Linked DNA regions of Homo sapiens: regions 1 and 3 are each linked to region 2. The links come from fine-mapping of genetic effects on gene expression. A gene starts in region 2. Each other region holds a variant in brackets. All regions are shown on one strand. Distances are between the middles of the regions.

The links.
Region 1: its variant is fine-mapped to the expression of CCDC191 in whole blood (INTERVAL, PIP 0.98). The same link has a PIP of 0.9 or more in lung.
Region 3: its variant is fine-mapped to the expression of CCDC191 in aorta (GTEx, PIP 0.98).

Annotation. Positions count from the first base shown.
Region 1 is chr3:114,005,778-114,013,965 of GRCh38, reverse strand. CCDC191 (coiled-coil domain containing 191) reads left to right here. Exons shown (of 17, transcript NM_020817.2): 9 at 2,945-3,194; 10 at 8,004-8,188. LOC105374048 (a long non-coding RNA gene) reads right to left here. Exons shown (of 3, transcript XR_924347.4): 2 at 1,086-1,194. Among named protein-coding and RNA genes, the nearest start is that of CCDC191, 47 kb to the left of the region's middle. RefSeq lists an enhancer at 8,182-8,188. The variant CG/G (reference allele first, on the strand shown) is at 3,026.
Region 2 is chr3:114,053,242-114,061,429 of GRCh38, reverse strand. It overlaps CCDC191 (coiled-coil domain containing 191), which reads left to right and starts at 4,904. Exons shown (of 17, transcript NM_020817.2): 1 at 4,904-5,053; 2 at 7,795-7,833. The coding sequence starts at 4,964. It overlaps QTRT2 (queuine tRNA-ribosyltransferase accessory subunit 2), which reads right to left and starts at 4,693. Exons shown (of 10, transcript NM_024638.4): 1 at 4,566-4,693; 2 at 4,324-4,431. RefSeq lists enhancers at 2,145-2,644, 4,753-5,162.
Region 3 is chr3:114,093,960-114,102,147 of GRCh38, reverse strand. No RefSeq gene overlaps it. Among named protein-coding and RNA genes, the nearest start is that of QTRT2, 41 kb to the right of the region's middle. The variant C/A (reference allele first, on the strand shown) is at 4,072.

The DNA.
Region 1 (8,188 bases), 47 kb after region 2:
TAGATTCTCAGGAAAAAAACTCTTGTAGGATAGGCAGCATAATAGGGCTTACTGACACTGTTTTTGAGGATGAATCTGGGGCTTAGAAACTCAGTTGCTGTCCCAGTGTCCCATGTCTAGTTAGCATTCTTCTTCTGACTTGTAAGTTCCAAAACATGCACCAGTCACCCAGTATCATTGAGTGTTCATCCTGGGCAGCAAGGTTCATACTTAAATTCCTATTCAAACCTTTTGTATTTTATATTCTTAGATGAGCAGAGCCTGCCTTTCTCTGCATGCAGTTATATATCATTGTGATGATCAATTTATATACTCTGGCTAGAAATTCCCTGATTTCAGATTGCAAGGAAATTGGGATAGGCTATTTTTCATAAGGGAACTCTGCCCTTCCATTTATGATTATCTGGCACCTATGTCTGAAACCATTTCTTTAGGTGAGCATACCAAAGTAAGTTGCATCTGACTAAGGTTTAAGAAATTTAAGTGATTTTTCGCTTTTAGAAATATTTATGTTTTAGTGTTATCTTTTAGAAAGTATAGAAATTGGCTTATATGCAACATTGTCACTCTGCTGAAGTGAGCTACAAGAAAACAGTAGTGGAACTATCCTTGTCTCTGGATCTCTAGCTTCTGTGCTTCTGCCTTTCTGCCTCAAACCACAAATACAGATATCGTAACTACATTTTCTGTTTTTTCTTTTTTACTTTTTTTTTTTTCTTTGACACAGGGTCTCACTCTGTTGCCCAGGCTGGAGTGCAGTGGCACAATCTCGGCTCACTGCAATTTCCACTTCCCAGGCTCAGGTGATCCTCCCACTTCAGCCTCCCAAGTAGCTGGGACTACAGGCACTCACCACCACGCCCAGCTAATTTTTATATTTTTTGTAGAGATGAAGTTTCACTATGTGGCCCAAGTCTCAAACTCCTGGGCTCAAGTGATCCACTCACCTCAGCCTCCCAAATTCCTGTGATTACAGGCATCAGCCACTGCGCCTGGCCAACTACATTTTCATATCCCCGCACAACCATTATAGAGTGGGCTTTAAGCCCTATATTGAACATGCATTTTTTTACTCATTTTCTTACTTTTTTAGTCTTGTTATAGTTACAGAAGTGTTTCTCTCTTTGCCTTTTCATAATGTCCAAATAATCTCCTTGACAGTCAAAACCCCAGTGCTGCTTTTGGCTGTTTGTGCTGTAAAAACAGGAAATTAATACATCAGGTAAATTTCACACTCCTCCTTCCAGAGCAGATTGATGGAAATTGAATTTCACATTAATCAGACACAGCAATGTACATCTTCTATCCTGTAGAAATTTATGATTTTTACTCACTTGAATAAAGTGTTACAGGGTTTTTTTGTTCACTATTTATACACTGATTTTTAGAGCTTTGTTCTTACCTGTGTTGCTATCTGATTTATTGTTATTTCTTCTAAAATTTTTATTTCAAGATTATTCAGTCTCAGATATTTGTTTTCATAAAAGTAAAACATACATAAATGTTTATTACCACCTATATTATACTTTTATTACAAAAACCATCAGTGAGTGAATTTCTAAATATTTATTGAGTACCTATCAATGCATTAGAAGGAAACAATTAAATATAATGAAATATGCTGTTAGCAGGGTTGCTTATTTTTAAAAGAAATATAGAATAGATTAGAAATATCAGAGTATATCTCTTGTGGTAAGGGTAAATATTATTTGGTGAAACTTTTACACACACACACACACACACGTATATTGAGTCACAATGTGACATTTTTTCTTACTGTAGGTTGCAGTCAAAAAAAGGTTTAAAAGTCGTATAAACATTTAAGAACTGTAGAAATGGTCTCCTGACTCACTGAGTTAAGAACTTTATGATTTGCTTGATATGACCCCAAAGAGTCCATGAGGAGACTTAAGCATTATGTATGTTTAACAGAAATGGATATGGAGAACTTATATGAGTCACCTTTCCAAGATACAATCCAGTGTGTGTCTAAACAGTATATTTTGAACCTCAAAGCTGATCCCTGATACTACATAATAAGTTCCACACTCACAGCTAAGTTCTTCAGGATAATAACCATTCACTTATAGATAGATCTCAGACCTCTATGTTTGAATTCTCAACTGACTGCCACCAAATCTCCTAATGCAGATTCCCATTGGGAAGAAAATGTGGCTGGCAGTAACACCACATCCCAACCTCCCCTCAGTCATATTCCCTAACATTTATAAAGTTTCCAGGAATCAAAGTGAGCTCTTCCTTAGGAAGGTGTAGAAAATAAATGAGTTCCATGAGACCAGGGGCCTTGCCTTTGCCCTTTACACATCTAGTGCTTAGCAAGTACCTTCTTGGGGCAGACATGCATTCAGTTCAAGGGTTTGGTAAATGAGTCCTTCTCTTTAGCAGTCCTTTCCCTGACCAGTTCTTCTTTCACAAGATCAACCCTCAGTGTTACTTTGATTTTTGTAAGCCTTTTACTTAAATTATTGACAATTTAACTTGTTAAGTGTTATAATTTTGTTGCTTTCTCTTTCTCCTAAACCTGTCTTTTTAAAATTTTCGTGCATAGCTGAACCTCTGTCTCCCTCATGCATTCATCTTTTTAAAGTCATTACTTGTGTACCTCTTCTTTTTGCTCTTTCCCCTCCAAAAGCTTTCAGAAACTATGGTAATCAAAAACATGTAACATGCCCTTGTGACATGAGAACAGAACAGTTCCTCTTTCTTCTTGAAGGTAATCTGTTGAAGTGCTGACACCTTCTATGAGGAGATCCTTTGCACTGGGGAATTTATAAAGCAATTTCATTTAGCTTAATATAAAATGTTAAGCGAGAGCTAAGATGGAGCATTTCTAGAACCCTTTTGGACTTATGTTTCATTTATATTATCAATTAACAAACTGTAAATGGCTTCTTTATTTTAATGGAAGTGCTTTGTTGCTTAGAAAACAACAACTGGCCACTGAGTATAACCGGAAACAAGTTCTCCGACACTGCTTTACAGAATGGCAGCATTGGCATGGCGC[CG/G]AGCTCCTGAAGAGAGAGCTGGCTCTCACAAAAGAGGAAACTAGGAAGAAGATGGATGCACTGCTGCAGGCAGCATCACTGGGGAAACTCAGTGCCAATGGGTTATCAGGCATCAGTCTACCTGAGGAGGCAACAGCCATGGTGGGTCCACCAGTAAAAAATGGACAGGTACGTTGTTTTTCCTGCTTAGTAAACACTTGCATTTGAGGTTTGTGCTTTTATAGCTGGTATGTCAGTCATTGTCAGATTGCTTTGTCTAGGCTATCAGAAGATTAGAGCTGCCTCAATGCACTACCTTTCAGGCAGTGTTTATTTCCTTGAATTGAATCTTCTTTTTATAATCATATATAAACTTTGGCATCATTGGAAGTTAGTAGGGATTTAATATCGAAAGGGCATTTAAAACAACTAAGTAAAATATTCGTTTAGGAAAAGACAGGTAAAGCACTGTCTATAACTCTTGAACTCCCCTTTTTGATCATCAGACATTTCCTTTCTAAATGAGTTTGTGACTTACAAGAGGGGAAATTTAAAATTTTTCTTTTTCTAATAAGAAAAGTCATATGTACTAATTGTAGCAATTTGATAGAAGATCACAGAGAAAAACTCCTATAATTCTGTCATCTATAGATAATCACTAATAACATGTTAAAGTATAGCCATCTAGTCTTTAAGCATATGCAAATTTATCTCTTAATATTTTATTTAGCTTTTAAATTTTCTTTAGTCAGGCCATTGAGGAACTCGTCTGCCAAAATTCAGGAAAAGGAAGGCCATGTTTTTTTTTCCTTCTTAATACTAATACTTACTGTTCTTCTAAAAAAAAAATTACGTTTTCACAATATAACATGAGCATTTTCTGTCATTACATACACTTCTGCAATAGTAGTTCTCAACTGAGAGTATACCTCAGAATCACATCTACTAAAACAGAATTTTTGGGTGTGGGGCAGCTCTTTTTTTTTAAGTTCCGCAAGTGGACGTAATACATATCCCCTGTCTAAGGACTAGTATTCTGTGCCACCATTTTGTAATGGCTACATGATACTCTGTAATGAACCATAAGCTGGAATTTGTTTAGCTCCTGTATTACTGGAATTTAAGTTGTTTCCAGTTTGCCGCCATTGTGAACAATGCTTCAGTGAACATCCTAGTAGCTAAATCTGCACATATCCATAATGCTTTACTTAGGATAATACCTAAAAATGGAATGCATGTTCTATTTTCATCTTATTATTGCTTCAACATTTGTATCTCTTTGATTACTAGTAAGGTTAAACATTTTTATATTGAATATACACTTGTGCACCACATAGCAATGTTTTGGCGAATGACTGACCACATACACAGTGGTGGTCCCATAAGATTATAATGGAGCCAAAAAGTTCCTCTTGCTTAGTGACTTCTTGATGATCTTGACCCTGTGTAGTCCTTGGCTAATATGTGTGTTTGTATCTTAGTTTTTAACAAAAATGTGTTTTAAAATTTTTTTAAAAAACAACCTCTTTAAAAACAGGAAAAAAAAGCTTATGGAATAAGTATATAAAGAAGGAAAATATTTTTGTACAGCTGTGCAATGTTTGTGTTTTAAGCTGTTACTTTATAAAAGAGTCAAAAAGTTAATAATTTAAAAGTTTATAAAATAGAAAGTTACAGTAAGCTAGGATTAATTCATCACTGAAGAAAAAAAATTCTAATAAATTTAGTGTGGCCTAAGTATACAATGTCTATGAAGTCTGCACTAGTATATAATAATGTCCTAGGCCTTCACATTCACTCATCTAGAGCAACTTCCAGTCCTGCAAGTGCCATTCATGGTAAGTGCCCCCATACAGGTGTACCATTTTTTATCTTGTATACTGTTTTTACTGTACCTTTTCTATGTTTAGATATGCAAATACTTCCCATGTGTTACAGTTGCCTACAGTATTCCGTATAGTAACATCCTGCCCTGGTTGGTAGACTAGGGGCAATAGGCTATACCATATAGCCTAGATGCAGTAGACTATACCATCCTGGTTTGTGTAAGTACACTCTACAGTGTTTACACAACAAAATCACCTATTTCTCAGAACAAATCCCCATTATTCAGCAATGCATGACTGTATATATATCTATATATGGATGTAGTAAGATACAGATATATAGTGACTTGTCTCTTCATGCCCTTTGTCCATTTTTCTATTTGATATCTTTTTCTTATTTATAAGAGTTCTTTATATTTTAAGACTATTGATGCTTTTATTATTATATATTGCAAACATTTTTTCCATTTTGTCATTTGTCTTTTTGGTTTAGTTATGGTGTTTGGTATTATACACAGTTGTTTAGTTTTTATAAAGTCAATCCTGTCGGCTTCTTCTTTTATCACTGCTCTTGTCATGTTTAGAAAACCTTGTGGAGAAGAGCTTCTACCCCCTCACCTCCACCCTCCACATAATGCTGTTAAGTACTTAATTCAGACATGTGAAATTAAATTGTGCACTAGAGGGTCCCCAGCCTTGCTTTTTACCCTGATTATTGCTAGCAAGTAGGCTAGTTTTAATTTAAGCTTATTCTCTGAGCAAGGGGGGATCAGGAAGATGCTTGTTGGGACTTATGTGTAACATTTTGGTCCCTTCCCCTAGGCAATGTATCTACCTTTATGGCAGATAATTTTGTCTCCATTGAGACCCAAGACAGACTTCTATCTTAAGAAAGAGCTGTATGGAACCTTTTACCTTACAAAGTGCCACTGTTCTTAAATGAAAAAAAAAAAAAAGTCAGCAGAAAGTATTTTTTACCTGTGCAAAACAGAAAAATTACTATATATATGTAGTAATTTATATATAGTAATATATATAGTAATTTATATATATAGTAATATATATAGTAATTTATATATATAGTAATATATATATAGTAATTTATATATATTTAGACTCAAGGGAACAAAAGACTCCAAATCTCTGAAATCAAGAACAAAAGACTTTATCAAGAAAGGACAGTATTGTTAAAAATGGAGCAAATGATAATAGAGGGCTACAATAGACCCTGTAGAGACTAAGTAAACTAATCTTTTTCCAGCGTGTACAGCAAAACATGACCAAGTGAAAATATAAAATCTTTAGTTAGATGCTCATTAATTATACAGTCATAGGAACTCATGTACTAAGAACACACAAACTGTACCTTGAATTTTTCCAAAATTATCAGTTAGCTAATAGGTGATTTTCTCTAATTAAGTCAGACCATTCACTCCTGCTCTATTAAGTACTATCTGTACCACTAAGCTTTTCCTTCATGTTCTTTATTTTCATGTTAAAAAGTTACCATGATCCAAAAGAAACCCTGTCGCTTTACTCAGGGCTTTGACACAGTCTTGCTAGGTTAATAAGGTGTCATTACCACCAAGTTTAAAAGAACCTAAAACATATACCCTGCTTGATATAAATTGCTTAAGCAGGTGTTCTCATGAATAAGTGTTCACTGACATTACTGAAATAAAAGGTTACTTTTAAAAGTGTTTAACATGTCAGAGTTTCCATATATCACATCTTTCATTTCAGTTGAGTCTATGGAAAGCATTTCTATAATCGTGAAAAATATTTTTGAGTCCCTAAGGATGGGGTCCTGTTAGAACAAGAAGCTTCTGATATTTAGATAGCTCATAGCATTTTTCTCTTTAAGCCATTGCAGATGGCAGAATCAAAAACTTAGACCTTAGAACATGGACTCAAACCATTCTAGAAGAGACACTTTAATATGACATTATTTTGGCCAAGATAGCTGTTTCTAAATAAAAATTCTTGTTTCCTTCCCCTCTGTATAGAACTTGTAATTGAGTATGGTACCTCAGTCTATTAAATGGGATTTATGTAATAAAGCTTTGAAAACTAGTGATATGCTAATACAAAATATTATTAGGTAACATTATTCTTATGTAATGCAGATATTTGCCCAGTGATCCTGAGCTTCCAAATATTTCCCACCCATAGATAGTTTGTAATGCAGATATTTGCCCAGTGATCCTGAGCTTCCAAATATTTCCCACCCATAGATAGTTCAGGAATAGCTGGAAACGGTTAGCTAGGCTTTAACGGGACCTTGATGCTGAAATAACTAAATATCCTATACTATGGCATATGATTAATTTACTAGTGTCAGGAGAGGCATTGAAAGAAAAGAGATATATTATTCATTTGTAAAGATATTCTTTGGTTTTCAGACATTCTCGAGAAAGAATATATCCTTTGCCACAACATCTTCAAATTTCCACTAAAATTCAGAGTCAATTTATGCATATTAAATTCATGTTTTTTATATATAAAATATATATATTTATATATATATATATATATATATATATATATCTGGAGTAACCTTGCCTAATTCACAAATGAACTGTCCAAATTAGAAATTTATAAGAGAAGATTTTTGCTATTACGAATGTCCTGGCCCATGGCAATGGTTCATACAGCTGTAGCCACTCTCCCAGTTTTCTTTTTTTTTGAGCCAGGGTCTCGCTGTGTTGCCCAGGCTGGAGTTCAGTAGCACAATCTCAGCCCACTGCAACCTCCACTTCCCAGGTTCAAGCGATTCTCCTGCATCAGCCTCCTGAGTAGCTGGGATTACAGGTGCGTACCACCATGCCTGGCCAACTTTTGTACCTTTAGTAGAGACAGGGTTTCACCATGTTGGCCAGGCTGATCTCAATCTCCTGACCTTAAGTCATCTGCCCATCTCGGCCTCCCAACGTGCTGGGATTACAGGCATGAGCCACCACAGCCGGCCACTCTCCCAGTTTTCATGGTGAGCAGCAATGCATGTTTTAAGAGTGGTGGCCTCTGAGGTAGCCAGGCCAGGAGCACAGACCACCTTTACCTGCAATACATGGCAGTTGTGCCATTAAACAAAACAATACTGACCTCATAAATGTTGGATTTCATCAGCACAGTCCTTTAAATAGTTGAGCTATAACATGTTTCTCTCTCTCAGGAGACTGCTGTGCCCCCTTTGTGGGAAAAGCCTCCCTTGGGAAGCAGTGGTTGTATGCTCAGTCCTCCCCTGGGAAGAACAACAACAGGCAACTTGCAGGGTTCCCTTCAGAATGTCTCTCTGAGTGCACCTGGCAATAAGCAGCACAAGACCCTGGGTGCTGAACCCTCTCAACAGCCTGGCAG
Region 2 (8,188 bases):
GCCACTGGTAAGGGATTTAGGCTTCTGCCTGGTAAGCTGAGCCTGATCTTTTCTATATACCCAGCACAGAGCCATCACTCAGGGTCAGGCTCAAACCTATCAACCTCAGAGACTAAACAATAAAATCAGTATGCACAATTATTTACTCTGAGAATCGAAAAAAGCAAAGTGGATCAGTCAGTGGCATGTTTGCCCTATAGAATGCAATACATGAAGCCAAATATGCCATGCAAGCATAGAATCAGAATGGGAAGAAGAAGGTACATAAAGGCAACTAAAAGGAAACCCATCGGTTTTCTTAACACAGTACCCCCATTCACAGTTCTGCTTTCCAGTTTCAGTTACCCATGGACATCCGAGGTCCAAACATATTAAACGGAAAATTCCTGAAATAAACATAAGTTTGAAATTGCATGCCATTCTGAGTAGCATAATGAAATCTCTCACCATTTTGCTCTGTTCCACCCAGGACGTGAATCATCCCTTTGCCCAGCATCTTCACACTGTAGACGCCACTCGCCCCTTAGTTACTTAGGAGCTGTCACATTGATCAGATCAACCGTCACTGTATTGCAGTGCTTATGTTCAAGTTACCCTTATTTTACTTACGACTGGCCCCACAGCACAAGAGTTGTGATGCTGGCAATACGGATATGCCAAAGGGAAGCCATAAAGTGATCCCTTATGAGAAAAGGTTAAAGTTCTCCAACTAGGAAAAGAAAAAAGACTGTTTGCCGAGGTGACTAACATCTACTACTGTGCCTAATTAATAAATTAAACTTTATTATAGGTATGTATAGATAGGAAACATCATACTGTCTGTCTATTGTCTGTCTATCTATTTAGGGTTTGGATCTATCTAATCTATCTATCTAATCTATCTTATCTATCTATCTATCTATCTATCTATCTATCTATCTATCTATCTATCTACCTACCTACCTACCTACCTACCTATCTATCTGGGGTTTGGAACCATTTGCAGTTTCCAGCATCCACAAGGGGTCTTGGAACATATTCCCCACAGATAAGCGAAGATGACCAAACAACCAATCTCAGATTCTCCAAGGTTGGACACAAGGATTCTCTAAGAGTATAAAGGCAGCCAGACCTGGAAGCCCAGACCATTGGCTTCCAAGACTTACCTTTCTCTCAAAGACTTCTTAGTTTCATCCTTGTGTAAGGAAAGAATGAACATATTCTAGAAGTTCCCATCTTTTAACAAACGAGTCTCAAGTGTGATTAATCATCCACTCAGTCCTGAAGGCATCTTCTCTCTTCTTTCTCATCTCCCCTTCCCTCTCATCTCCCCTTCCCACTCTTTCCTCAACTGAAGAAACAACTTTCTTGATTCTTAACTGAAAGTCTGTAATTAGAGGTCCTTTGTAACTCTAAAGGACATTGGCCACCATGTTCTTAGAGGCAGAGATGGGCTCTCCTGTGATATAATGCTTTAATCCCAAATAACTTTAAAGATGAAATTCAAAATCCTCAGCTTAGAATACTGAACCCACTCAGCCAGCTGGAGAGAAATACCTACTTGGCTTTCTCTACAGTGAACGATTTTGGTGCTACATACTCACTTCTGTTGTTTGGGGCTTCATAAAAGTTCCACCCTAATCACAGTAACTCAACATATTAACGAAGAGAAAAATAAGGAAGCAAAAGCAGATGACTGGGTTTAAGAAAAAGTATTAAAATAAACTGCCATGGTCAGTGATTCTGTTTTGTGGGGATGAATGCAAATATTTTAAAATCTGAGGAAAACATCAGAGATGTACTATACTTCAGCTGGAAATCAATATTTTTTTTAAAAAAATGGAATTTTGTCCAGAGCTAGAAGAACCAAGTCTTCCTTTCTTCATTCATTGTTCAGGTTATGGTAAATGTTTTTTATAATTACACTTCTTTTCTAGAGGCTCAAATACAATAAATTGTTACTATGAAGTAATAAAATAGTACACACACATACACATATTCATGTACATATTTTTAAAAACATGCTTTGAGAGTGATTATTTCCTTTTTTGCCAAGGAAAGTTCAAGAAACAGATCAACAGTCTCCAAAATACTAACTAGTTTTTATTTGCCTTTATCATGATCCCTTCCCTTTTCACTTGTTGTGGGTCTGCTCTAATATTTCTGGTGTCACAGATGGCATTCCTGAGAAAGTCTTAAGGAAAAACCCTTAAGAGTGTAAAGACAAATGACAGGCTGTCAGTGGATCTGTACCTTTACAAGGACTAACAAAGATTCCCTGCACTTCTGGCAACACCGTACCTGTCCTAACACTTCCAGTGCGACCCACCACCTCCACTCTTCATTTATCAGGAGAGAATGGATTTTTAAATGTTTCCTAGCTGGATTCTCTACATACTGCCATGGAAATGTCCAAAATTTCCTAAGGCAAAAGATGGTCATATTTTTTGTGAAAGGAAAGCTGTATATATAAGTACACATCAGCATCTCTTACCCCTCTCTCCCACACATGTACACTTTCTATAATCATAGTATATGCATAGAAAAATGACTGAAGGACTTTTAAACAATGTGGTGCATTGAGCTGACTCAGAAATGACACACAGAAATGAAGAACGCTGGCCGGGCACGGTGGCTCACGCCTGTAATCCCAGCACTCTGGGAGTCCGAAGTGGGAGGAACACCTAAGGTCAGGAGTTCGAGACCAGCCAGGCCAACATGGTGAAACCGTCTCTACTAAAAACACAAAAATCAGCCAGGTGTAGCAGCACATGCCTGTAATACCAGCTACTCCGGAGGCTGAGACAGGAGAATCACTTGAACCCAGGAGGCAGAGGTTGCAGTGAGCCAAAATCATGCCACTGCAGTCCAGCCTGGGTAACAAAGCAAGATGCCGTCTCAAAAAAAAGAAATGAAGAACGCTACAATTCTAGAAAACAGTAAATGAAGATTTTTCCAAGGCATTCGGAAATCGTTACACCATTTGGTAGGGGGAAAGAGATAACGACGACGTTAAACTTTGTTGAGTATGTGTGTTAAAAATTCAGAAGTAACTGTTAAACGATTAATGACAGAATGCATAATTTCCAAACTCACTGGAGAGGGAAGTGGGAAGATAAAGAAAAATGAATTAACCTAATAAAAGGCAAGAAAGGAAAAGAGACCAAAAAAAAGAAATAGAAAACACAAAATAAGATGGTAGAATTCCAAATGTCAGTAATCACAATAAAAGTTAAATTAATTTCACATATAGAAAGACAATAATAGCAACTAACATTTATCGGGTATTTACTATGTATTAAGCACTGTTCTTTATATATTCACTCCATTAATCCTCAGATCAAATGCATAATATAGATACCATTATTATCTGCATTTTATGTATGATAAACTGAGGCTGATAAAATCCCCAGCTGGTAAGTGGCAGAGCAAGGACTTTAATTATTGAAGTCTAGTTTTCAGCGCTGTACTCTAATAGGCTGGGAGCTTATTAGAAGTTCCATCTGGTACACAAGCACATTATAATCTTAGTTTCCATTTTGCTATAGTGTTCTTCTTCTTTTCCCTTTCTCCCTCCCGCCTCTAATCCATCCTCCCAGTCTCTGCAATCTTTCTCCATTCTCATACAAATATTTAAACATACTTGCATATGGGAGGGAGTGTTTTGGTCAGGGTTTGCTTTTACAAAAATGGAAACATATTATACTATAATATATGCACTTCTCTGCAATTTGCTTTTCTCTCAAGAATAAACATTAGACGTCTTTCCTGAAGAAGAGACATAAAGCTAACTTACCCTTTTGAAAAAAACTACTTCGTGGTACTGCATAGTTTGTATGAGCACAATTTATTCAACCGCCTTTCAGACAGACCAGTTACAGAGCTGGTCCTAGGATCGCTGCAACAGTCCGAGGGCATAGCTTCCCTAACTTCATTTTCACCAATTTCAAATCAACTTTAGTTTACATTTCCTGGCAGAATGCTTCACATACATTTATTTTTAATCATTACAACACTCCAGTGATTCAGGTATTATCGTCCCCATTTTGCATGAGAAAACAGGGTCTCTGAGTTATTAAACAAGTTGCCTAGGGTCATATAGCCACAAAGTAGTTGAATTCAAAACTCCTGTTCTAAATCTTTACTCTGCTTTATAAGCCCATTTATCACCCCTAAATGGGCTGTCTCTGGAAACACCTCGGCTAAGCCAATAAGCCTGGATTTATCTTTGCTCCATGGGCCATCTCCATGGCCCCAGACCTCCCTAGGCACCTGGCTCAGAGATTGAAGACGGTCCCACCCTCCCATGGGCAGTTCGGAATAAAAACTTCCTGAAAACTCTACCTTTCAGCAGAGGCTAGTCGAAAGGGGCCCTTTTATCTCAGAGGTGTCGGCGACGCTCACACGATTTATGAGAATCTGAACTTACAGAAACCAATCCACCAGGACACCCTGAAAAGGGAAGCAGAGGAGACATGGCGGGAGTACAATCACCGTTACTGCAACACAACCAGGAAGCGTCTGGACGCGACGTGACTCATCCATCTCTAGCAGCTCCCACACCAGCAGGGCAAAGGGGCACTTACCTGCCAACAAACCATTCGACTCTTTCAGTCTTCAGACCCCTCAAACTCCTCACAGTTCACTACCACGTGTTGCAAAATTCTCTGCCCCAAAATCACTGCCTCCAGTGCAGAGCCAATCAGGGAGTACTGCGTCATCACTGGGCGCCAGAAAAAAAGCAAAGCCGACATTCAAGCGAGCCTTGATGACGGCAAGAGCGAGGGACCTCTGCCGTTGCTATGGTAACTGAGCCAACGCGAGCGGCCTGCGCAGAGCCTCGTGGGAGTGGTGGTTCGACGGTGTCCTATGCCTGCTTTCCTTGCGGGCGGAGGAACTACAATTCCCAGCGTGACCCGGAGGCAGCCCGGGCAGAAGGGCGGTTGCTGCAGCTTTGGCCGAGGTTCGGGCTCGAACTTGGAAAATGCTCCTGGCGCCTCAGGGAAGGTCCTTCTCAAAGAAAAGGATGGGGCTGAATCGCTGGAAACGGTTCACAAGGAAGCCGAGTCCCAAGGTGATCCCAATCGAGAGCTTTGGAGGGCGGGGACTTTCCCAAGGCGCGGCGCAGTCAGGAAGCCAGTCGCGGCCCGTCTGTGCTTCCTGCCTCTTCATCCTGAGCTGACACGCCCCTGCCTTGACCGCCCCAAAGCCAGCATTACCCTGAGTGAAATGCTCTAGGAGCTCTGGGGTCTGGGCACATTACGGCTTTGGTGGGCAGCATCGTGGAAGAACTGTTTGTAACGCTTTTCTAAAACCGGAGGTGTCTGCTAATGCCCATCGGGGTGAAAGGAGTTTGCAAACTCCGTTCCCCCTACCTTAAATTTTAGGAAACTTCTCGCACATTTCTTTCTTTTTCTCTCTCTTTTTTTTTTTTTGCAAATCTTGGGGTAATTGATCTTTATTAACGGGAGAGAGCTTCACATTAAATACCCTGCCTATATTCCTGCCCCTTCACTTTTACGTAAAGTATCTAAATAAACTCAGGAGTGCAAATGGATATTGAATACATTAATACTTGATTCACATAGTAATTTCTAAATTCAACCAACTTTCAAAAAATAGATTCTCTCCGTATCTATCACCCATTTGGATGCATTAGCACCTGAAGATAAGAAAAAAATAATAACCCCATTTTAAACTTGAAACATATGTGACATGTGCAAAGTCACAGTTGCACCGTGTGCTTTCCACAGACTACCTTTTTAACAGTCCCCAAAAAGATGCTTAAAATCTAAATGAGAGTACTAAAATGGAGAAGCTTCTCAGCTTTCAGCTACAGAGCAGTTTCACCAGCTGTTTTCACCCTTAAGTTATACTTTCCTAAATAATATTCTGTAGATGTATGTGGCCTTTTTGAGGGCCCCAGGCGATTGTTCTTGCGATTTATTCTAAATTTACCAGCTAAATGCATTGGACATATTCCACATGACAAATATGTTGCCCTAGATACTAGAGGGCACAGACTGAAGCATCAGGGAGACTTGGAAACTGAGGCTGCTGCTATTTCAATACATCAGTTGCATAATGTATTGGATCCAAGATAGGATATAGATATGGACTTGATGATGAAAGGTAAAAATTTAGAATAATTTCTTAGGACTCCAAAAGGAAGGATTTTTGCTGCTAGTGCTCATTATTACTGCCTAGAGAAAAAAAGGTAAAAACATAGGGCTTCTTCAAGTTCAGTTGTATTTTAATTAGATCAGCTCTTTCTTTGTTGCAGTGACAAAATTATTAAGCAGTACAGCTGCGTTAGTTATCAGTAAGATGCTTTGAAGGTAAAGTGTTAGGTAAGTGAAAGAGTATTATATTTTTCCCACCTCCATGTGTCAGTATGCTAGTTTAGATATCCCCTTATTTTATTATTATTATTATTATTATTATTTTAAAGAGTATATTTGAGTAAGAAGCAATTCATGAACTGGGAACGCCAAACCAAAAGAGATTTAGTGCTCCAATGACAAATCATCAGGATATCCCCTTATTTTAAAAACACACCTGAATTTTTAGTGAAGAAGATAACTCTATTTGTTAAGTGACTATTAGAGGGAATTCTGCAAGCTTCTGGGAGTTTCAGAGGTTGAAGAAAGGAAATGTCCTGATAGTTTTACTTCTAATTTCAGATTAATACCTGACTGATCTGGGTGGAAATTTATATTTTCTGCTTTGTAAAACAGTAAAAGTCAGATTGATTAACCCTCGCCCCATTCCCCAGTTTTTGTTGTTGTTGTTGTTTGTTTGTTTGTTTGTTTTTGAGACAGAGTCTCGCTCTGTCGCCCAGGCTGGAGCGCAGTGGTGCAATCTCGGCTCACTGCAAGCTCCGCCTCTCGGGTTCACGCCATTCTCCTGCCTCAGCCTCCTGAGTAGCTGGGACTACAGGCACCCGCCACCACGCCTGGTTAATTTTTTGTATTTTTTTTTTAGTAGAGACGGGGTTTCACCGTATTAGCCAGGATGGTCTTGATCTCTTGACCTTGTGATCTGCCCGCCTTGGCCTCCCAAAGTGCTGGGATTACAGGCATGAGCCACTGCTCCCGGCCAAAACACACCTGCATTTTTGGCAAAGAAGATAACTCTATTTGTTAAGTGACTATTAGAGGGAATTCTCCAAGCTTCTAGGAGTTACAGAGAGTGAAGAAAGGAAATGCCCTGATGGTTTTACTTCTAATTTCAGATTAATACCTGACTGATCTGGGTGGAAATTTATATTTTCTGCTTTGTAAAACAGTAGAAGTCAGATTTTTTAACCTTCAGTTTTTATTGGGCCAAACAAGATCCCTGATCTGGGTAAGATGAGAAAGCCTCTTGCTACAGGCTACTTATGAAAGGAGTAAGGAGAGGAACACACCCTTCTTTAAGCTAAAGATTACTTGGATAATCTGGCTAATTAATCAGTGCTTTTTTTTTTTAATGAGTAGCTTTATATTTAGCATTTCTATATCTTGACTCTTAACCCTAAGGAGGTTTAAAAAAATAGCAGTGCCAGGGTCCTATCCCAGACCAATTAAATCACAATATCAAGGTGGACCTAGACAAGAAATAAAAACAATCAGTGTCCCAGGAAGGCTTCATGTTTTCTCCTCATACTGCTATTCTGTGTCTTTTATTGCTAATCATGCTGAACTTTCTAATGAAATGCTTTGGGGAAATAATAAAGGACACTGTTCCATATGCTTTAGTCAGAAGGATAGATTTAAATGGCAAAGTTGATAAAGATATTGCTGCGTATTGATATCATATATATGTTATCTACAGCCTACTTTTGGTCCTGACAGTGTGGAACACTGGATAAAGGTAAGGATATTTCAAATTTAGAATAAAAAGAGTATTAAGAGTCAAGCATAATCAGATGGAAAAGAAATATGAATAGATCTCCACTTTGCACATACTCTGCTATTTTTATTCCCGTGTGACTATGTAAGTTGCCTTAATTTTATACTTTTTAGTATTTTTTTTCATAATTCTGTTGCCTCTCATGATACCATTTAAGTAGGAATGACAAGAAAACAGGTGTGTAGACTTCGTTTCAAATGCCATGAGTATCACATGAAGAGGATTAAAGGAGTTGTGAAAAGAAGCCTTGGGAGAGGATATGGTGGCCTTCCTCAGATGTTGGAAAGACTGCACTGTAGTTACAATGACCTAGGGA
Region 3 (8,188 bases), 41 kb before region 2:
GTTGATGATGTACTTAACATGGATGTATCCAGCTGTAATACCTGGACCACTGATCAATCTTAGCACAAAAAAGATGGCCCACCATTGTGTACTTCCAGATGGAATAACACATCATCACCTATGAAACAGTCTTGCAAAAAAAATCAAACCTGAACCTGCTCAATCCTTTAGATTAGCACTATCCAACAGAAATATAATGCAAACCACATGTATAATTTTAAGTTTTCTACTAGCCTCATTAAAAAAGTAAAAATGAATAGGTGAAAACAATTTTAACATATTTTTATTGAATCTAACATATTCAAAAATCATTGAAATTATGATTGAAGCATTGAAATTACAATTGATTGATTGATTATAATCAATGTAAAAATAATTAATATTTTATATCTTTTTCTGTTAAGTTTTGGAAATGTGTTGTATTTTTACATTATCAGCACATCACAATTGAGACTAGTTGCAATTCAAGCACTGAGTAGCCATATGGATGCTGATTCAAACAAACTAACAGAAAAAAATTATGAGATGATGGAGGAAACGTGAATACCATCAGAATATTTGGTTATAGTGAGAGCTTATTATTTCTTTTCAGGTATAATAACAGTACTGTGTTTAAGTTTTTAAAGAGAGCCCTTATCTTTTAGATGCATATTGAAATATTTATGAATGAGATTATATAACATCTAGGATTTGCATCAAAATAATCCAGTGATGTCTGTATGGGGAGTGAATAAGAATGCAGAAGACACAAGATTGGCTATGAGCTGATTGGTTGAAACTAAGAAAATGACACCAGCTTTCTGTTTAATGTTACTGTTGAAGAATAGAGAGGGTCTTGTTCATTGAACCCACTACAAATGAGATAATGGAATTAGGATTAGCTGTTATTACTGTCAATCACTTCTGACCCAAGGGGAGGTTATAACAATGGCTAGAATGCTTCCTCTGACTGTGAAGCAGACGTCCAATTGTGGATGATATTTCTGCCACCCTACTGCTGAGGAAAAAAAAAAAAAAAGATTGTGGCTCTAAATCTACTCTGTTATATGAAAAAAATGAAGAAATTTCAGCTACTCTCAGGGAAGAAAATAAATGTTTCCAACCCAGCTTGAATCAGAGTGTTCCTAGGGGAGAAGCTAGTATGGTGGAGATGGCGCTAACCCAAATATGAAACCTCCCAATGGGAAGTTAACACTCAGAGTGAGAAGACTGAGCTACTGTGATCAGTTAACCATTCCCTCATGGAATATCACTTTCTTTCTGGTACTAAACTTTGGAAGTCTGCATTTTGTTTTATCAGAGAAGGCAATGATCCTTTCTTTTGTATTACTCCCATAGACTAGTCAGTCAGCGAATTGTGAATAATGGGATGAATGATGGAAAGATAATCAGAGAGGAAAAAGGGCACTGTGGGAAGAACATGGTCAGATCTGGGAGGAATTTTCAGGCCATTTTATTAGTGGCCTGGAATTTTATTCCCTTGGTAAAGCAAAGCTCTATGCATCTTTTTTATTGAGAGCCAGGGTCTCACTCAGTAGCCCAGACTGGAGTACAGTGGCGTGATTATAGCTCACTGTAGCCTTGAATTCCTGGGTTCAAGCAATTCTCCCACCTCAGCCTCCTGAGTAGGTAGGGCTACAAGCATGAGCCTATTTTTTTGTATGGTAGCTGCACTACAAGCATCCAGCTATTTTTTGGGGTGGGGGATGGTAGAAATGGTGTCTTACTTTGTTGCTCAGACTGGTATCAAACTCCTGGTCTCAGGAGATTCTCTGCTTCAGCCTCTCAAAGCTCTGGGATTATAGGCATTGCACCCTATATATTGTGTTTTAAAGTACCAATTCAACTGTTTTTTTTTATTGTCCCCATAAGTACAGTAGATTCATATTTATCAACCAGAATATTCTTATTTTAGTTGAGAAAACAAGGTGAGAAAGACTTTCACCTTTTCATACCATAGTTCTTTGTATATTCCACTAGCAAAGTGATTATTATGCTGTTTTGTAATGAAGTATTTATTTCATCCACTAAGCTGTGATTTCAAAAGCAAAAACCTTGACATTTTCACCTTTGAATCTCCACCATCCAAAAAATGTGGGGCATAGTAAGAGGCAATACATGTTGAATGAATAGACTATCCATTCAACAAATATTGAGCATCCAAATTGGTGAACAGTACAAAATGGCAACTTTGAAAATCTCCAAATGAACATGTCAAATGTGGCTTCTTAGCTAGGATCTTATCACTGACTTCAAAATCACATTTTAAAAAAAAACTCCAGTAAGTTAAGCCTGACCTCCTCATAAAACATGGCTTTTTTTTTAATTTAAAAAAAATTAATAGAGACAAGGTCTTGCTATGTTGCCCAGGCTGGCCTTGAACTTCTGGGCTCAAGCAATCCTCCTGCCTTGGCCTCCCAAAGTGCTGGGATTGCAAGCATGAACCACCATACCTGGCCTCAATTGATTTTTGAGACAGAGTCTTGCTCTGTCACTCTGGCTAGAATGCAATAGTGTGATCATGCTCACTGCAGCCTCCAACTTCTAAGCTCAAGCAATCTTCCCAATTCAGCCTCCCAAGTAGCTGGGACTAGAGGTGCATGCCACATCACCAGGCTAATTTTTAAATTTTTTGTATATATGTGGTTTATCTTTGTTGCCCAGGCTGGTCTCAAACTCCTGGCCTCAAGAGATCCTCCTGCCTCAGCCTTTGCTAAAGTGCTGGGATTACAGGTGTGAGTCACTGCATCCAGCTGAGACATGGATTTAAATGACTTTGTTATTTTCTAAAATTTAAAGCATATATACAATGCTATCATTAGAAATACTCAACCGAATGTACTGCCCAGTCTGAGTTCCTTTCCTGAACTCTATTTCCAAATGTTGCTCCAAAAAGGTTTTTAGTAAATGGGATGTCATTAGGAAAGGTCTCTACTCCCCTGATTATCTTCTTAGATGTCAAGATTAAATCACTTTTCCCAAAATTGTGTTAATAAAATCAGGACATGGCTGGGTGCAGTGGCTCTATTATGCCTGTAATCCCAGTATTTTGGGAGGCTGAGGTGGGTGGATCACTTGAGGTCAGGAGTTCGAAACCAGCCTGGCCAACATGGCAAAACCCCCACCTCTACTAAAAATATAATAACTAGCTGGGCGTGGTGGCATGCACGTGTAGACCCAGCTACCAGGGAGGTCGAGGTGGGAGAATCACTTGAACCTGGGAGACAGAGTTTATAGTGTGCTGAGATTGCACCACTGTACTCCAGCCTGGGCAACAGAACAAGACTGTCTCAAAAAAATAAAATAAAATAAATAAATAAACAAAATCAGGACATGACTTTGTAGAAACACATTTATTAAGAGTGAGGAGGTTATATTGTTTTTATATTCATTGCAGTGTCTTACCCTGGCCCCCAGGCGACAGTGAGTGAGAAGGGAAGGAGAACAGAAATAATAGCACAGGCTCTTCAAGCAGATATTCCTGAAGTCAAAGTGATTTTATTTTATTCATTTTGTTATTTTATCAGGCAGCCTCTTGAGCCAGAGTAGGCGCTGAAACTCCCTATTTTTACTATTATTATTATTATTTTTTTTAATGGAGACATGGTCTCCCCATACTGCCTGGGCTGGTCTCAAACTCCTGGCTATGAGCCACTGTGCCCAGCCCAGAATTATTTAAAACAGTTACTTGACTGTTTCAGCCCTGTTTCCTCAAATATAAAATGGGAACAATCATACTTCTAGGGTGCTTACAGATTTGTTGGGAACCTTAAGATGCAGAACACTCAGGGCGGGGTGCAGTGGCTCACGCCTGTAGTGCCAGCACTTTGGGAGGCTGAGGCAGGTGGATCACTTGAGCTCAGGAGTTCAAAATCAGCCTGGGCAACATGGCAAAACCCCATCTTGTGGTGGCGCATGCCTGTAGTCCCAGCTCCTGGGAAGGTTGGGGCAGGAGGATTACCTTGAGCCCGGGAGATGGAGGTTGCAGTGAGCCAAGATCATTCCACTGCACTCCATTGTGGGCAACAGAGCAAAAACCTGTCTCAAAAAAGAAGAGAAAGAGAGGCCAGG[C/A]GTGGTGGCTCACTCCTGTAATCCCAGCACTCTGGGAGGCCGAGGTGGGCAGATCACCTGAGGTCAGGAGTTCAAGACCAGCCTGACCAACATGGAGAAACCCCATCTCTACTAAAAATACAAAAAAAAAAAAATTAGCCAGGTGTGATGGCGCATGCTACTCGGGAGGCTGAGGCAGGAGAATTGCTTGAACCTGGGAGGCGGAGGTTGCGGTGAGCCGAGATCATGCCATTGCACTCCAGCCTGGGCAACAAGAGCAAAACTCTGTCTCAAAAGAAAAGAAAAGAAAAGAAAGAGAGAGAGGAAGGGAGGAAGGAAGGGAGGAAGGAAGGGAGGGAGGGAAGGAAAAAGAACACTCAAACAGAATTAATGTTGAGCTAATCAAGGCAGCTAAGAGGCAAATTCAACTCATTAATTTGGTCTGTAGTTCTTTCCTTAATAATGAGTAGATAATGAAATGTAAACCACTAACATTTTGATTTTCTTTACCCATAGATACTGTCATGTGGTGATTTTCCACCTTCTGTCATCTCTTAGTGAAACAGCCTTTGCAAAATTATGACAGTGGGAGAATTATGACAGTGCAAGATATCTGACCTAACTGACTCCATCTTGCTTCTAACCACCAAGCTGCCCCTGTTCATTCTTGGGCATGAGGCTGAACTAACTTTGGGAGAAACTTAGTTTATAGTTTAACTTTAAAACAAAGATAATAACAGCCCTTTCCCAAAACAAACCCTCTTCTCGCTTGGGGACCAGGCTGCCTTTGTAAGACTAACTAGCCACAAGATTAGAAATTATGGTTTAGGAGTCATGCGGCTAGACACCACAAGATTCTAAACCTCCCCAGTTGCTCCTAGGGATAACATCACTATCATAAAACGTAAGACTGGTGCTCATGATATTTTGCAGACCTTGTGCTCTGATGCACCAACTGGTGCCACCCAGACCAGTAATCTGGCTCAACCAGCACTGCAATCCCACCTAGGAGCAGGAGACAGTAAGACGAATCCACTTTGACCCCATATGATTTCATCTCTGACCCAACCAATCAGCGACCCCCACTCCCTGGTCCCCTACCTGCCAGATTATCCTTTAAAAACCCGAGTCTCCAAATTTTGGGGGAGACTGATTTGAGTAACAGAACTCTGGTCTCCATTTAGCAGGCTCTGCATGAATTAAACTCTTTCTCTATTCCAATTCCCCTGTCTTAAATCAGCTCTCTCTGGGCAGTGGGCAAGGAGAACCCATTGGGTGGTTACATTAGGTTGGACTTTGATTTGACAGACTACATGAGTAAAGTGAAGCTTTCTAACTCTATGTAGAATATACGTAATTTTGGAGTTTGCTCCTGGTCTATAAATTGCGAGAAGGCAAGTAGGGTTTTTGTCATTTAATCCAGTGTCTGGAGAGCACTTGACACTTAGTTGGCAGTGGATTAATCTTTCTTGACTAGGTGAATAAATGAATTCTAAGTATCAGAGAATTAGGATGGGGAAGACATACACAAATGAGCAAAATCCTTGGTACCAATATATTGGGAAGTCCCTGATTAAGATTGGGTTGTATGTGCTTATCGGCTGGGACAAATTCCATAGACTATCAAGGACCTGTGAGAAAAAGACAGGATCTCCTGATGAGGCCCTGGAAGATGCTCACTTCCTCCCCTCTTCTGATAAAAACCAGCAACCAACAAAAATTATTAAAGTATAATTATAGGAGGGGCATAGGCCAGGGAGGGAATTATAAATGGCATAATATATTGGAAAGGGCTTGGTCTATATATCTTTCTGAGCTGGGTTTGAGACATCTTTTTCCAAATTCCATTATATCCACAGTCATAATAACGAAGTCTCCTAAAATGTATCTACAAACAGAATGGTCTCTGTGTTCAAGAATCACTGTTATCCCAGCAGCCAGAAAGGCTATAGTCACTGTCAGAGTAGCAATAATAATGTCTGTACCACACCTAGTTTGTGAGGTACAAGTTACCAACGAGGCTGAATAGAGGCAGAACAAGAGATAAGGACTCAGAGAAGAATTGGGGTGGAAAAGGAAACCTAGACTCTAGTTCTAGCCTTGCCTCTCATTTCCTGTTGGACCTTGGGTTAGTCACACACTGTCTGGGCCTGGGTTCTGCCTCTGTCAAATGAAGGGGTTGGATAGATAATTTGTAACATTCCTTCTGGCTCTAAAATCATACACTATGTGTTACCAAAGAAGCTTCTTTCTGACAAAGAGAAAGACTAAGCTATTTTTTTCCCTTTCTACGATTTAAACGTCCTTTTGCTTTTCATTTATATGCGAATGTATGAGATTTTAACCAAAACAAAATTAGCATCTCTGGGTCACTCCTCAGCCCTCTTATCATTAAAATGTAGTTCAGATTTCTGAGACCACAAATAGAAAGAGGAATAGTTAATAAGTTATCCCAACTTACCAGTCCTTAATACCACGGAGTAATTATGGGGGTAGCCCAGAGGGCAAATAGGAGAGGTTCAGAGTACACAAAAGTTCAGTTTGGGATAGGCCTCCACCTATTTTTTTTTTTTTTTTTTTTTTGAGGCGGAGTCTCACTCTGTCGCCCAGGCTGGAGTGCAGTGGCGCAATCTTGGCTCACTGCAAGCTCCACCTCCCGGGTTCATGCCATTCTCCCGGCTCAGCCTCCAAAGTAGCTGGGACTACAGGCGCCCGCCACCACGCCCGGCTAATTTTGTTTTTGTATTTTTAGTAGAGATGGGGTTTCACCGTGTTAGCCAGGATGGTCTCGATCTCCTGACCTTGCGATCCGCCCGCTTCGGCCTCCCAAAGTGCTGGGATTACAGGCGTGAGCCACCGCGCCCAGCTGCCTCCACCTACTTTTGGTCGTTGTTCTTGAAGGAGAGCAGATGCTCTGCATAAGAAAAACACAATTTAGGAAGGTCCGGGGTAAAATGGGGAAAATCCTGGGCTTTTGAGTCATAGTGCTGAGTTCAGAGTTCAAATCCTGGATCCCTTGCTTTGTGTCTTTTTTTTTTTGAGACAGTCTTGCTCTGTTACTGAGGCTGGGGTTCATTGCTCACTGCAGCCTCAAACTCCTTGGCTCGAGTGATCGTCCCTCCTTGGTTTCCAGAGTAGCCAGGACTACAGGTGTGTACCACCATGCCCAGCTAGTTATTTTTTATTTTTTGTAGAGATAGGGGTCTTGCTTTGTTGCCCAGGCTTGTCTCACACTCCTGGCCCCAAGTGATCCTCCCACTTTGGCCTCTCAAAGTGCTGGAACTAAGGCATGAGCCATCACACCCAGCCCAATTTCTCCTCTGTAAATTGGAAAAGATAATGTCAACCTCAGAGGGTTGCCATGAGCAATAAAGAAGGTAATGGATGGATCACGAAGTCAGGAGATCGAGAGCATCGTGGTTAACACGGTGAAACCCTGTCTCTACTAAAAAAAAAAAAAATACAAAAAATTAGCCGGGCATGGTATCATGCACCTGTGGTTCCAGCTACTCGGGAGGCTGAGGCAGGAGAATCACTTGAATCTAGGAGGCGGAGGTTCCAGTGAGCCGGGAACACCACTGCACTCCAGCCTGGCAACAGAGCGAGACTCCATCTTAAAAAAATAAAAATAAAAATAAAAAAGAAGGTAATGGATAAGGCACAGACAGAATTGAACAAATTATAATGAAAAAAGAAACGGATAAAGTGATGTGTTAAAGATGGAGAAGTAGAGAACATACTACAGACACATGATGAGAAGAAAATTAATCACACATTCTCCCTTAATTTCAGTGGGGCAGGGGTGAGGGTGCAGACACGGCAAATGCTGAGGGATTATCTTTCCCTTACAGAGCTGATAGTCTGGTTGGAAGATGAGGCTCACAGAACTGAAGCACTGATTAAATCAGATGCCTAGAGCACTGGTTGCTGGTGCCTTTATGAACAAAGGAAATCAGAATAGAAGCCTCTCCTCTTCCAATCTTGAGACTCTAGAATTCTAGAAAAGCAAGTTTTTATGGAAGGTTTGGTTCTTGGGCTGGACCTTGAGAATGGGTAGGATTAGGATATAACCACTTAGGAAAAGTGGAAAAGTCCACGGCAATTGGTTAGGTTCAGATTATGGCGGCCCTAGAAATTC